Regions from separate parts of the Homo sapiens genome. Here region 2 is linked to region 1. A link means that fine-mapping ties the variant in region 1 to the expression of a gene that starts in the linked region. Tissue or cell type: whole blood. Region 1 holds a variant in brackets; the other region holds the start of a gene. All regions are shown on one strand. Distances are between the middles of the regions.

Region 1 (8,182 bases):
ACTCCTGGGCTCGCGCGATCTGCCTGCCTTGGCCTCCCAATGTGCTGGGATTACAGGCATGAACCACCATGCCCCAGCCTAGACACAACTTTTAACAATGAAAGAAAACATTGGTTTCTGCTAAACAATTTAATTCTATGGGAAGCTATTTCTGTATCTAAAAACACCACGGTAACCATTACATCCAGCAATAAATACCATAATATACACTTATAGAGCAAAACTTACCAACAAGTCTTAAAGGTCTGTGTATACTTTAACCTGTACACTTTTATCCAACAACACTATTGCTAAAAATGTATCCTAATAATCACAGATATGTAAAGAAACTAAACAGATGTTCACTGCAGCATTATCTGTAATGTGGGAAACCAGAAAAAACCTACAGGTACAACAATAGGGGAGTAGTTAAATCAAAGGGAGGATTCATGCACTGCATTATCGTGCAACATCAGAGTTATTGCAGAATATTAGGCTGGGTGCGGTGACTCACACCTGTAATTCCAGCACTTTGGGAGGCCAAAGTGGGTGGATCACCTGAGGTCAGGAGTTCGAGACCAGCCTGGCCAACATGGTGAAACCCCGTCTCTACTAAAAATACAAAAATTAGCTGGGTGTCGTGACGCGCGCCTGTAGTCCTAGCTACTCAGGAAGCTGAGGCAGGAGAATCACTTGAACCCCGGAGGCGGAGGTTGCAGTGAGCCGAGATCATGCCACTGCACTCCAGCCTGGGTAACAGAGTGAGATTCCATCTCAAAAAAGAAAAAAATTTGCAGAATATTAAATTTCATGTAAACAGGTCATTATATTTACAATACATTAAGTGAAATGCAGATTACAGAATAACATGTAGCACACAGCATTTTTGCAAAAAAAAAAAAATTCGTAAAGATAGAAAAAGACTAGTACACGAAAAATATTAATAGCAGTTATCTCTAGGTAGTGAGATTATGAAGCTTTTTTTTCACTTTATTTTCTTCACTTTGTCTTCCTAAATTTTCCGCAAGTAACATTGTTAGATTTTTAGATTACAAATAACTTTAAGACAAAAATTATTTCTAATTATCCGGTAGATAAAGGAATGTCATTAACAGTGCTGTGGCTGAAAAATGTTGAATACATTTTCTACAGGAACGTTTAAAATTAGTCTGAGTATTCTAAAATTCTACCTGTTTTTCTTCTGAGTTCACTTCTTACAATCAACACTTACTGAATTACACTTAAAAAAATTGTTTTTCTTGGTTGAGCACAATGGTTCATGCCTATAATTCCAGCACTTTTGGAGGCCAAGGCAGACGGGTCACTTGAGTCCAGGAGTTTGAAGCCAGCCTGGGCAACACGGCGAAAACACATCTCTGCTAACACAAAAATTACAAAATACAAAAATTAGCCGGACGTGATGGCATGTGCCCGAGTCCCAGCTACTCAGGAGGCTGAGGTGAGAGGATCACTTGAGCCCAAGGGGTAGAGGCTGTAGTGAGCCAAGATCACGCCACTGCACTCCAGCCTGGGCACTGGAGCGAGACCCTGACTCAAAAAAAAAAAATTTTTTTTTCTACTCCAGCTTACTTCTAACATCTGGTTCTGGGTATATTTTCCTTGCGATAACTTCTCTGTGAAATCATCACCTTCTAAGACCTTATTCTCCCTGAAAAATACTTCTCTTGCTTACCCTAAAAAGTAGCACAAACATGTGACTTGGTTTGTGAAAGACAAAGCTGCCAGACATATTGAACCACTGATCTCAGAAAACTAACAGCTGGGAAACAAAATCATCCCTGCCCTATGGTAAACTCTCCTCTAGGGTCAATTAAATGACTCCCTAGAATGCTAATGCACACATATTATGTGACTGGTATCATACTGAAATCTATATTGAAAGTCATGAAGCAGGTATCTTGAGCGAAGGCTTCTAAGAATTTTCAAAAGCTGATATGCAAACAAAGTATTCAGTCATGATGATGTTACAGGCAGCGAGCACACATCCCAGTTCAAACTGGGATGAGTCGGTCCCAGTTCAGACCTGTTTCCCAGTGTAGTTATTATTAAGACCCCCTTTTTCTCACTCTCAAAAGCCCCAATGTGGATGGTAAGTTACACAGTCAACTTGATGGAATGTACATTTGCCTAGAAAGGTAAAAGGGGCATAGAAATTTCATTCATCCCTAAGAAAAACTTAGTCCTCAGGATCCTGATTCCAGATACAAGAGAATTTGAAGCACATAAAATAAAAGCACTATTTATTTATTTACCTATTTATTTATTTATTAAGTAGAGACAGGGTCTTGCTATGTTGCCCAGGCTGTTCTCCAACCACTGGGCTCAAGCAATCCTCCTGCCTCACCCTCCTAAAGTGCTGGGATTACAGGTGTTAAGCCAGGGTGCCCCGCTGAAACAAACTATTTTTAAGCGTTTAGTGGAAAGGCACAAAACGTTTTGTCGAAAATGATTAAAATCTATGTCATCATTAAATATTAATTGTACTTAATTGTAACATTTTAAGGGAAATGTTATGAATGACACTAGGCTATGATAACCTAGTTCATCTTCTTGCCATTTTTCCATATATGAAACTTCAGAACCAATCATTAGAAGATCACTAAGAAAAAAAAAATCGCCAAGACTCTTAGTGGAGATTTAATCTTCCATAAAACCAAACTCAATGCATTTTAGAACTAATGTGGCCTCTCAAAAATAATCTTATTAATGTATCATTCCAAAACCTGCTTTGATTTATCCCTGTGAAGGAAACATATGGCCTCTCTCTGGAGAGACATACACATAAGCATGTTGGCAAATGATGGTGTCACTCAAACACTCAATAGTGCCTTCTGCTGGTGCAGAAGTGTTTTTTTTTTTTTAACAAATTCGATTTGAAAATACTTTTCTTATAAACTGAAAAATAGAAGTAATCTTGTCTTTTTCATTCTTTAAGTACCAACAGGGGCAAATTTAGAGACTAACTTGTATATTTCTTCAAATTCCAAGTAGCTCATATTATCCTTGCTGGAATTCATATTTATGATAGTCAAAATGTTTAAAAAGTATTACCTATTTTGGTAAGACAATTATAAATGTTTATTGTTGGGTAAAATATACAAAATAGAGCAAGGCGTAGTGGTGCAAGCTTGTAGTCCCAGCTACTTGGGAGGCTGAAGCAGGAGGATTGCTTGAGCCTAGGAGTTCGAGTCCAGCCTGGGCAACATAGCAAGACCCTGCCTCTAGAAAAATAAGTTTTAAAAAATCCAATTCACTTAAATGTGGTTTTATTGATGGACAGTTTCTTCCCAGAAAAGCAAAAGCAGTCCTAAAATATCCATGAATCCTTGACTTGTTAATGGTTCCTACCAAAGGAATATTACCTAGTCTTTATATAGAAAATCATTTTGACATAGATGTGCATTTTCATTAAAATTTTAATATTACTATTTTAATATACTTAATGTATTGCTTCTGAAAATGTAACCTACCACTGAATTTGATCATCTATCTATATTCTCCCCACAAAAACTAAATTGACTTCCTGGTACACATTGAACATCACACACAAATGTTTAAAATACTAAATATCACACACAAATGTTTGAAATATTGACTTTATTAGGAAAACATTTGATAGTTCTATTCGGTCATATAATCAATCACCTAATTTTAAAACTATGTGGCCAGAGGACATCAATTACAATATGGATTTTTCATTCATTCAACGAATATTTGAGCACCTACAAGTGCCAGACATTGGAGGTACAGGGTAAACAGGAGGATCCTTGCTCTCACGGAGCTTACATTCTAGCAGGAGGACAATATTAATGTTTATAGGAAAATGATGAGTTTATGACAAAGGAAGTAGATAGTGTTTTACAAGAGCATAGAGTAGGGAAGCTAATCCAGCACAGGGAGGTCACAGAGACATCCCTAAGGAAGTGGAGTTTAAACTGAGAGAAGCAAGTGCTTAAACTGAAGGATGTGTTGAAGAAGAAGGGAGAGTAGAACAATTTGGGCAGAGGGAACCTTATAGACCCTAAGGTGGGAAGGTTCAAAGAACTGAAAGAGAGCTAGAACAGCTGGAGCCGTTCTCCGGTGTAAAGAGGAGTCAAAGAGATAAGATTAAAGATGTGAAGATTAAGATCTTGGTGGCATTCAGGGATTGGCACTTCTACAAGAAATCACTGAAGGGAGTAAT[C/G]TGACATTACTTTTCACTTCAGGATGGCCATTCTAACTCCAGGGGGTAGACTGGACTAGGTAAGACTGGAGGCAGGTAGACCTCTTCTAAGGCCTGCGATAGTGAAAGACAAAAATAAGTGGGGAAATTCAGGGGATAGTGAAAATCAGTAGGACTTAATGAGCAAGCCAGAGGTTCCTCCACAACAACCAGTACAGATGTCCAGTAGACCTACTGGATATGCAGGCCTGCAGCTCAGGGGAGAGCTGGGTTAAGAACCGTCAAGGCAGTAATCATCTGCATTTAGATGGCGAGTGAAGCCATGACAGGGGCTGAAATGGCCCAGCAAGAATAAATCAAACCATGAGAAACACATACATTTAAGAATAAGGAGATGTGGTCAGGCGCGGTGGCTCACACCTGTAATCCCAGCACTTTGGGAGGCCGAGGCGGGTGGATCACTTGAGGTCAGTAGTTTGAGACCAGCCTGGGCAACCTAGTGAAATCCCGTCTCTGCTAAAAATACAGAACTTAGCTGGGTGTGGTGGTGCGTGCCTATAGTCCCAGCTGCTTGGGAGGCTGAGGCACAAGAATCGCTTGAACCCGGGAGGTGGAAGCTGCAGTGAGCCGAGATCACACCACCGCACTCCAGCCTGGGCAACAGAGAAACACCCTGTCTCAAAAAAAAAATAATAATAAGGAGATGTCATGGGCTCGGGGGAGGGGGAAATGGGGAGCGCTGTTGTTTGAATGGTATAGTTTCAGTTTGGGACTGAGAACAAATTCTGGAGATGAATGGTGGTGATGGCTGCACAGCAGTGTGAGGGCACTTTATGCCACTGAAGTAACAGATGCCTTTCAAAAATAAGCCCGCTAAAATATCACCAAGCATAACCAGCAAAACAATCATTTCAGTGAAAATACAACTTTATATTAATCATCTCAATAATACAGATTACAGAACTGAGTTTACAGATTACAGAACTTTTCATACTTTGTGGGTCAGAAAGGATAACCGTAAATTACTGTCTCCGCTTTATGGGTGGTAAAACTGAGCCACAGAGAAATTTCTCTAAGAAAATTTAAAAGGAATTGATGTTCATTAAATAAATATCCTCACTGATTTTTTTAAGGTAGAAAAGTACAATGCACAGTGTTAAAAAAATTACTGTAACAGCCTCATGTTCGAGAAGTCTAAAATTTTAAGGCTACTACATGTGTTAATTTTCAGTACATGTCCAACAGAAAACATCCTTTATTCCAGTTACATCCTGAAGATACCGAAGTCAGTCTTCTCTATTGGTGCGTTGAGGGCTGCACTAAAACTGAGACCCAAGACCAGTCTGGTGTCTGCTGGATCAATGATCCCATCATCCCATACCCTGACAAAAGAACAAAAAAAGAGTTATGAATTTACCACCAAACTACCATTTATACACTCTCCATGTGCAGAAATGCCAAGGAAGTTTTCCTTCAGGTAATATATGGATCTACTGATTAGCATCCATGTACCATAATCTCACAACAGAAACTACGTTCAAGACAGAGGGGGAAAACGTGGAAAAAAATGATATGACCTTCATCCCAGGCCACCACAGAATGTCATGTCAGGCTTAAGGCTTAAGGAACTACTTTTATAAGAGATCTCAAAGTAACCCCTAATTTGACAATACGTTTACTTATTTCAGGAAAAATTTTCCTATTCCTTTTCTTCCCACACAAATATATAAGCCAAGTTGGTGTATTCTGTCATTAATATGCAGAACCACATATACCCAGGTAATAACCTCAAACTTTACTGGAAAATGTATATTCCCCAACCCCCATCCAAACTCTTAAGAAACTATGAAAATTATTGAATAGGCTTCAGTACATTTTATCTTATTTATTATTATTATTATTTTTGAGATGGAGTCTCGCTCTGTCACCCAGGCTGGAGTGCAGTGCAGTGGCACGATCTCAGTTCACTGCAATCTCCGCCCTCTGGGTTCAAGCAATTCTCCTGCCTCAGCCTCCCTAGCAGCTGGTATTACAGGAGTGCGCTACCACACTTGGCTAATTTTTGTATTTGTAGAAGAGACGGGGTTTCGCCATGTTGGCCAGGCCAGTTTTGAACTCCTGACCTCAGGTGATCCGCCCACCTCAGCCTCCCAAAGTGCTGCGATTACAGGCGTGAGCCACCACACCCGGCCAGCTTCAGTACATTTTATTAATAAAATAGATACCTTCAAATGTAGGTCTTTATTTTTTGCTACAATAGGAAAAACAATAACTTTAAACTGCTTGCAGAAGAAACTTTTAAGTAGAAATTTTAGTTTCCTTCTCATTGACAACCTCAAATGTATAACGAAAAATGACTGAGAAATATTACTTTTTAAAGGTTATTAGTAGGTGGCAGTTTGCTTTTTTTATATAAACTCCCTTCGGTATCTGAACCTGGCATCAACTATTAAACCATTCTTACATTGACAGACATGAATCAAACCTTTGCTCATAAAACATTCATAATAGGGACCCTAAAGTATCAACACCCAATAAAAAGAAAGCCACTCTTGTCATCTGCAACCAGGTGAATTGATTACACTCCCTCTGAAGCCTGCAGCACAGCAAGCATGGTGATGAAGGGGCTGCTTAATAATGTTCATTAAAAAGACTGCCCCAGGTAAGAGGCACTAATGAAATGCCGGATAAAAGTTTGATTATAAAAACAACTGAGCAGAAGCAAATTGGCACGCTACATATGTAACCTATTAGGATTAAGGAAAACATTGTAGGTTTCAGTAACTGATAATAACAAGCTCTGTCTCTGAAAAGACAGATCTAGCCATGTTCAAACCTAAGCAGGCCAGGGAATTTTACTGTGAAGCTGAGATTTACTAAACCCAAGGAAGGTACCATAAACTGGCTTGGAAATCCTTTCAGCTTTGAAAGAAAGCTGCTGTCTCCATGCCACCAGCTGTTTCAACAGAAGGGTTAAACATCTACAGATCTGGCCAGGTGCAGTGGCTCATGCCTGTAATCCCAGTACTTTGGGAAGCCGAGGCGGGTGGATCACCTGAGGTTGGGAGTTCGAGACAAGCCTGACCAACATGGAGAAACCCCATCTCTATTAAAAATACAAAATTAGCCAGGCGTGGTGGCACACGCCTGTAATCCCAGCTACTCGGGAGGCTGAGGCAGGAGAATCCCTTGAACCCAGGAGGCGGAAGTTGCAGTGAGCCGAGATCATGCCATTGCACTCCAGCCTGGGCAACAAGAAACTCTGTCTCAAAAAAAAAAAAAAAAAATCTACAGATCCACAGAAAACTTTACTGTCTGTTAACATTTATTTCCAAAGATAAGTCTCTCTGGGCCATTTACTCTTCTGCCTTGAATGTAATCCATTAAAAAATAATAATAATGTTAGTATGAAAATAATAAAAGATGCAATCTTTCTCAAGAGATGATTTATCTTAGCCAGGGCTGAAAAACAAGCTAACAGCTCACACAAAATACACAATTTTTCAAACTTTAATATTTCAGCTGTCCCTGTGTATTTCAGTCAAAATCTTATGTGGAAAAAAAAAACTATAGAAAAGCTTAACAATATATATTTTATATTTCATCTCAAACCTCTTATACGGCTTTCTATTGCTTCTTTCCATTTACTGGCTACTATATGTCTGTTTACACGATGATAAAATCAGGAACATGTTTAGCTCTCAAAGACTATAAAATATTTTGTTCTTAATTAAATGAATCAAACCACCACAATAAAATATACCTGTAAATTTGTTTGTAAAAATATATATTCAGCAAAAAACCTTTAAAAATTCCCAAATATTGGCCAGCCACGATTACAGGTGGCTCACGCCTGTAATCCAAGCACTTTGGGAGGCCGAGGCAGGATCACTTGAGCTCAGGCATTCAAGACCAGCCTGGCCAACATGGTGAAACCCCATCTCTACAAAAAATACAAAAAAATTAGCCAGGTGTGGTGGCACATGTCTGTAGTCCCAGCTTTGGAGGCCGACGCAAGAG
Region 2 (8,182 bases), 71 kb after region 1:
CTCTGAGGGTCATGATTTCTGCTACATTCTCTTGCTCTGCAAAATCCAGAAAATAAAAAACAAGGAAGCAGCATGGTATTAGGGAAAGAACCAGTTGGAGCTAACACAATATACAGAACTTGTCACCCTACAACAGCAGAAAAAAGTATGTAACTTTTCTCAAGTGCACAGGCAACATTCTCCAAGATAGACTACATGTCAGGCCACAAAACAAATCTTAATAAATTTTAAAAGACTGAAATCATACAAAGTATCCTTTTTTTTTTTTTTGAGACGGAGTCTGGCCGTGTCGCCCAGGCTGGAGTGCAGTAGCACAGTCTCAGCTCACTGCAACCTCCGCCTCCCGGGTTCAAGCGACTCTCCTGCCTCACACTCCCAAGTAGCTGGGATTACAGGCGTGCGCCACCATGCCCAGGTAATTTTTTTATTTTTAGTGGAGACAGGGTTTCACCATGTTGGCCAGGCTGGTCTAGAACTCCTGACCTCAGGTGATCCACCAGCCTCGGCCTCCCAAAGCGCTAGGATTACAGGCCTGAGCCACCATGCCTGGCCCAAAAGTATCCTTTCAATCACAATGGAATGAAACTAGAAATCAATGGCAGAAGGATGACTGGAAAATTCACAAATATATGGAAATTAAACAACGTACTTTTAAGCAACCAGTGGGTCAAAGAAGAAAAGCACTGACCCACTGAAGCTGACATTTGCCTCTACAGACTGGGCAACATCTGTGCCAAGCTCAGCCCATCAGACTTAAATCACAGAAGAGCCAGTACTGGCTACAGTTCACCTCCCAGGCAATCCTTTATCAACCAACCTAGCCTCCTTAGGATGAGACTCACTAACCAAGAGGCAGTGTAGTTTAGTGGCAAAACCAAGTTCAACTTTCAGTTTCCCTACTTACTGATACTGCATTTGGCAAATCTTGATCTCTCAGGACGCCAGGTGTTTGTGTTTGTGTGTGTGTGTGTGTGTGTTTTAATCACCTGCGAAACAACATTCTACAACCTAGTAATTTTCTTGTGAAGCTGAGCAACCACAGAGGTTAGTGCCTGACAGTCATAATGAATTGGAGCTGAGCCACTGACAAGTTTCCCACCCCATCTTTTCAACCATAGAACCCACCTAGGTAGAGCTGGGTGAGTGAGAAGCATTATAGAGCAACAGTTAAGACCCTGGACTCAAGAGTTATGAGCCAGACCACCTGGCTTCAAATTCAGGCTCTGTGTTATCTCAGACAAATTTCTTGGACCCTATATACCACAGTTTTCCCATCTATAAAACAGAAATAACAATTGTACCTACTGCACAGGATCATTATGATAAATACATGAGTAAAACCACATAAAGCCTTTAGAAAAATGGTGGGTACACTATAAAATTCCTGCCATTATTATTACTTATTATAGTTGCTTTTATTTGTAATCAGGAAACACAGCTAAACTGGATCATTCATCCCATTCTCCCCCACCCTCATGGACTTGCTTTGTCTAATGTGAGCACACATTAATTTCATCACATGCCAGCAAGGATTTTAAATCCAATTTGTGTTCAGCCTCTTGCTCCTGTGCCTTCGGCCATGAGAAGGGCATGTTTAATTCAGGGCTGCTCTTCAGCCTCAGTCCAGGAATGGGAAGACACATGGAGCAGACCTGAACCTACCCTGCAGTGGAACAGTCACAGCAGCAGCTAACCAAAGGCCACCAACACGAGTGAGAGATTAAGAAACAAAACAAAATCAAGTGAGAGACTAATATTTACTGTTGTGAGTTACTGAGATTTTTTGATTATTTGTTACACAAAGCGCAACCTAGCAAAAGGTGATTCATACAAAACCCATCACCAAAGCCTTCTTTGTATTAATGGCAGTTCCACCTAACTAAATATTCTGCCCAGTTGGAAACTCCAAAGTCATCCATTTTCCCCTTCCACTCAGTTATTAACTCTATAATCTTTGCTCCTCAGGTATTTATGCCCCCCTCCTACATACAACTCTAACTTTGACTCCTTCATCTCAAGACTCAACTCTCCACTGTCACCTAGGTCTAGTCTTTTCCCTATATCAATCCATCCTCCACATTGCCACCACACTGATGATTCTACCATATCCATAGGATCATGCCACTTATCTACTTAAATATTTTAATGGACAACCTGCCAAATGGAATCTAAATGTGGCTTTTGCATGGAAGATCCTCCTCTATCTGGCCCCATAATCAATCAATCCCATCACCAGACACTATTCAATGAATTCCATGTCCTAGACATGGAATTCAAGTCCTCACACCAGATATACACTTTCATAACTCAGTACCTATGTTCTTGTAACTCTCTTGGTTTATACAGTCTTACCTTCCATCCTGCACCCTGAACTTGGCCAGCTCTTACCCAAGATTCATCTCACCCATTACTTCCTATCGGTAGCTTTCTGTAACCACCTTCTCAAGCTTTAGACAACCCTTCTTACACTGTACCACAGTTACCTGCTTTCTTGTCCATCTTCCCTACAAAATTATTAGTTCCATTCCTACGCATCCATGCCAAATATCTAAAATAGTGCCTAGACCACAATAACCACTTAATAATTCTGAATTAAACATTCTGGACTGACAAACAATTGTGTGTTGTTTGCACTATTTAGATGTTATCTGTATAGGCTTAGAAATCGTGGGAACACAGTGAAATTTTCCAGCTCTGATATTTCGCAAGTTTTGAGTTTTTTGGCCTTATGATGCCTCCTAATTCCAAGAAAAGCCACTCAAAGATACTGTGGGATATTTTCTATTAACATAACCAACTTTTTTTTTTTTTTTTTTTTGAGACAGAGTTCGCTCTTGTTGCCAAGGCTGGAGTGCAATGGCACGATCTCAGCTCACTGCAACCTCCGCCTCCCAAGTTCAAGCGATTCCCCTGCCTCAGCCTCCCAGGTAGCTGGGATTACAGGCGCGCGCCACCATGCCCGGCTAATTTTTGTATTCTTAGTAGAGATGGGGTTTCACCACGTTGGCCAGGCTGTTCTCGAACTCCTGATCTCAGGTAATCCACCCGCCAGGGCCTCCCAAAGCGCTGGGATTACAGGCGTGAGCCACTGGGCTCGGCCATCATAATCAACTTTTAAACTCAAATTTCCTAAGCACAGCGCCCCTCGTTGGGCTGCTCTAGGCCAGTGGTTCCCAAAGCTGGCTGCCAAAAGTCCCCTAATGAGTTCACTAACAATATAAACACAGCGACTCCACCTGAGACCCACAAGGTCCAGAGTAGGGCTCAGGCAGCTATTCAGCTAGCTCCCCAGGTGGCAATTCTAAACCAGGCTTTAAGAACCACTGATTTCAAAGACACAAAGTACAGTGCCAGCTCTAAAAGTGAACTAAACTTTCTTGTATCTGTTAGGCTTTTCTTCTTCAAACTTCACGTGCGTCACAGAATCAACTGGGGCTCCGGACAAGAGAGCAGCAGTTGTTGAAGCGTGCCCCTCCTCCACTTGCTTCCTAGCCTGGCACCGGCGGCCAGGCCACCGGGGCGCTCAGCCTACCTGGTAGAGGGCAGAGCCCAAGTCCGGCTGGGTGCCCAGCGAGGCCACCGAGTCCCCGTGATAGGCGCGCGGCCCGGCGGGAGAGGCGCGGGCACACGGCCGCAGGGCTAACCTCAGGACGGCCCACATGGCGGCGGGCACCGAGCGAGAGAGCGGCCCACGCTGGCCTGGAGCCGGTGCTTTCCCCTGCCGCTTCCCTGGCTGGGGCGGAAGCTGAGCTCAGGTCCTTGCAGCCCCAGAGAAGGTTTCTCTGATTCTCAGGCCTGTCCACACACGTGCCTAAGCGCGCCGCCCGCGATTGGTCAAGCCGCGCCACGCCCCCTGACCCAGCCAATAAGGGACAGAGCCTCAGCCCCGCGAGGTCGCGTCTAGTCCCGAGCGCAGGAGAGCAGGTCTCCCCGGCGGATCGACCCTCACGAAGCGGTGCGGCAGTGAGAGAGCTGCGGTTGGGCTTGGATTGGTGTTGTGTTGACACAGCGATAGATAATATCACGATAGTGACTGTACCTAAGGCAGGAGAATAAGTCTGGAAGCAGGGAACCTAAGGCTGTCTCACGCTGACTTCCTAGAGCTAAACTGAAAGGAAAACCCTAACTTTCCATGCCTAAGTAACAAAAGGACCAAAGGCTACTCCCTTTGCAAACCCCCCCACCTTTTCCGCAGGGCAGATAGGAAATTGGCTGTCCCCGACAAATCAGACTTACTGCTGGTGGAGGCTTGCTTTGCCAAGTTTGAACCTTAACTCCAGCCTCTGAATGGTTGCTGTCCACAACCAATCAGACTGATTGGGGGTCCAGTCTTCGTTTGCATAGAAGTATAACTTTGTAATTTCACCCTAGCCTCTGACTGCTTGCTTCTTGCAACCAATCGGGTTTGAGGTGAGCATAAAATGGCCAATAGGAAACTTCTAGTGGGTATTTGGACCCAAGAAGATTCTATATCCGGGCCCTTGAGCTCTGCTCGGTCCGCTCCCACATTGTGGAGTGCACTTTCGTTTTCGGTAAATCCCTGCTTTCGTTCTTTCGTTGCCTTGTTCTTTCTTTGCTTTGCTGGGCGTTTTGTCCAATTCTTTGTTCACAATGCCAAGAACCTGGACAACTTGCAGTCACAACCCCCAGTGACACACCAACAACATGAGTGAATCGCATCTAACACGTGCTTGCGAACAGCACAACAAGCCTGTTGTCCTTTCACTGGAGACCTTAAACATTCTTCTGATTATTTTCGCTATGTAGTTATTTTTATTTTTTACTTTATTTCATTTTTTGAGACAGGGCCTCACTCTGTCGCCCAGGCTGCAATGCAGTGGCACGATCACAGCTCGCTGAATCCTTGACCTCCCACCTCAGCCTTTCCAGTAGCTGAGACTACAGGTTTGTGCCACCAAGCCCGGCTAATTTTTTATTTTTGTAGGGGTTTCACCATGTTGGCTATGCTGGTCTTGAACTCCTGGACTCAAGCGATCTGCCCGCCACAGCCTCCCAAAGTGCTGGGATTACAGACATGAGCCACCACACCAGGCACTATGTAGTGACAGATTGTGGACATCAGCACTGTGGTCTTAAATAAAGGACTCCAAATATACCCATAAAAATTAAAACATTCTATACAAAATGCCTTGAACTTAAGGTTTTTCATTCACATATTTATTGAGCACTTACTACTTCTACTCCATTGGTTGCTTAGTGGGGCAGAGTAAAGGGGGAGGATGGGGTAGAGAAAGGGTGCGTCTACACCTGGAGGTAAACTTAGGTTCAGACTTCAAGGTACTTATAAGAAAATAATACAAATGGCCACATGATTTCTTACTGAACTGTGTAGGACAGACATTAAAGGAACAGAATGCAATTGGGAAAGGGTTGCAGCTGAGCCTTGCAGAAGCGTTGAGAGTGGACTGAGCAATGAACATGGCCAGGCTTTGTGCAAATGGAGGAGAGCATGAGCTAAACTGCAAAGGTATGATTTACACTGTGCTTGCCTCCCATGGTCAACAGAAAAAAAGGCCAGTAAAAACTGACTTTTCATATGTATCAGGGTATCAGAAGAGAGGGTTTGATATTTTAATTGCCACACTTTATTTTTCTCTAAATAGTTCTTCAATGATGCAAAGTACTTAAAATCACCACCCGAAGACAGAAAAGACACAATAGGATATGATTCCTTGCTTTCTTTAAAAGTCATACCTGTTTTGGCCGGGTGCAGTGGCTCATGCCTATCATCCTAGCACTTTGGAAGGCCAAGGCAGGTGGATTATCTGAGGTCAGAAGTTTGAGAGCAGCCTGGCCAACATGGTGGAACCTCATCTCTACTAAGAATACAAAAATTAGCCAGGCATAGTATCACGTGCCTGTAATCCCAGCTACCTGGGAGGCTGAGGCAGGAGAATCGCTGGAACCCGAGAGGCAGAGTCTGCAGTGAGCCGACATGGCACCACTGCACTCCAGCCTGGGTGACAGAGCAAGACTCTGTCTCAAAAAAAAAAAAAAAAAAAGTCATACATGTTTCTTATTTCTTGTAACTTTTGTTACAAGAAGCTCTTTGGAAATGTATAATGTTCCCAGAACAGCTAAGTAGAAAAATGCAAAAGGTGAAGTGCAAATGCACAGAAGGCCAAAAGCAGTCACCTAGCATCTGTTAGTGTCCAGTGTCTCTCTACCCCACTATTGAGATTACAAGGAACATAATCTTTGCCATCTCTGATTTTTTAAAATAATGTTTTATTGAGGCCAGGAACTTGAAACTAGCCTAGGCAACATAGTGAGCCCATGTCTCTGAAAAATAAAAATAGCCATGCACAGTGGCATGTGCTTGTAGTCCTAGCTACTTGGAGGGTGAGGTGAGAGAATCACTTGAGTCCAGGAGTTTGAGGCTGCAGTGGGCCATGATCTTGCCAAGCACTTCAGCCTGAGTGACAAGAGCTAGACCCTGTCTCTAAAAAAAACAATAAAAATAAAATAAAAATAAAGTAAAATAATGTTTTTATTTTATTTATTTATTTATTTATTTTTCTGAGAGGGAGTCTCGCTCTGTCGCCCAGGCTGGAGTGCAGTGGCACGATCTCGGCTCACTGCAAGCTCCGCCTCCCGGGTTCATGCCATTCTCCTGCCTCAGCCTCCCGAGTAGCTGGGACTACAGGTGCCCGCCACCACACCTGGCTAATTTTTCATATTTTTAGTAGAAACCGGGTTTCACCGTGTTAGCCAGGATGGTCTCGATCTCCTGACCTCGTGATCCACCCACCTCGGCCTCCCAAAGTGCTGGGATTACAGGCGTGAGCCACCGCGCCTGGCCAAAATAATGTTTTATATAATAAAAATAAGAGAATTAATTGAAAAATGTAACCGCCAGGGCTGATCTCTGCAGCCTGGTGCGCTGCCTTTCATCTCACCCTCAGTTCCTTCCCATGCATTGCTCATTCCCATTGGCTGCCATCTTCCACTTGCTCTCCTTCCTTTATCCGCACCGTTCCCTCTGCCCAGGGCATCTTTCCACGACCAGACTTGTCCGTTCCATCTTCTCCACCTGGTGAGCCCATACACATCCTTTAGGACTTGGCTCAGGAATCTCCTACTCCAGAAGCCCTCCCTGACCCCACCTCATTACCTCTTTCTCCCTTCAACAGGCCTCTATTGTGGCTCGGGTCAGCACTTGTTGTTAGGGCTCATTTAGTTTCTCCAACTTGGGGTCTTGTCAGTGTCATCATTTATGGCCTATGCTGGGCATATTACAGACGCTAAATTTGTTGAATGAATACATAAAAAATAACTGCTCTGGAATCAGAGCAAGGAGACATTCCAGGACACCTAAGGGAGGGTTATTTAAAGGCCAGGCAAGAAGCTGGGAGGTCAGGATGAGCAGTTAGACCTGGCAGGCTCTCCTTTGCTATCAAGTCTCTTCTGTAGAAACTTAATGACCTTACCTGGGATATCACATGGTATTACTTTGGTTGTACTCTATTGGATTCAAGGGGAGGGGACATAGACCCCACCACTCAATGGAAGGAGTGTCAAGGCCACTGGCAGAAAAGATGAGAGACATTGTGTGACTATCTTTGGAAAACATGACTGACATGCCAGCACATGCACTCATGTTTATACATTTATCCCAATCCAACCTTATATTTGTTTTCCTTGGCGTAACAATCCATTTCCATATTCCCTAACTCTTGCCAATACACACTGGCAAGAAACTATCTCTTTCTGGGCCACGTTCAGTACTTTTTGGTTTGCACTGGAATAACTAACTTCTGTTAAGATCCAGAGGCAAGGAGGCAGGGTAGGATCAGTCCCTTACAAGAACTAGCATCAGCTCATAAGGCAACTGCCCCAGATGAAGCGACTAAGTGCCTTTTACACAGGGAAAGGCTGGTCAGGAATGGGGAGTGGATATGAGGGTAGGTTGCCTCCACTCTGAGAAAAGCTCAAGGGGATTTGGGCATTTGAGAGTCTGGGTCTTGACCACATCTGCCCAAATGTGTCCATCCTATTTCTCAGCTTTCCATTCCTTCCTGTGTAGTGTCCTTATATCATACTGTACCTTTCATTGACCCTTCAACTCCCTTCTTGTCAAATCCTGGCTTGATTCTCGGCCAAACTGCCCTGCATCTACAGAAGATAATAGACTCCAAGCTGTGATAAAGGCTTTTTTACT

The links. PIP is the estimated chance that this variant, and not a neighbour inherited with it, causes the effect.
Region 2: MCCC2 starts here. The variant in region 1 is fine-mapped to the expression of MCCC2 in whole blood (TOPMed, PIP 0.93).

The regions. Positions count from the first base shown.
Region 1 is chr5:71,654,105-71,662,286 of GRCh38, reverse strand. MCCC2 (methylcrotonyl-CoA carboxylase subunit 2) reads right to left here. Exons shown (of 17, transcript NM_022132.5): 17 at 3,581-5,544. The coding sequence ends at 5,427. Among named protein-coding and RNA genes, the nearest start is that of CARTPT, 61 kb to the left of the region's middle. The variant C/G (reference allele first, on the strand shown) is at 4,184.
Region 2 is chr5:71,582,905-71,591,086 of GRCh38, reverse strand. It overlaps MCCC2 (methylcrotonyl-CoA carboxylase subunit 2), which reads right to left and starts at 3,747. Exons shown (of 17, transcript NM_022132.5): 1 at 3,533-3,747. The coding sequence starts at 3,661. LOC124900999 (a long non-coding RNA gene) reads right to left here. Exons shown (of 4, transcript XR_007058810.1): 4 at 6,833-8,136. RefSeq lists an enhancer at 3,302-4,088.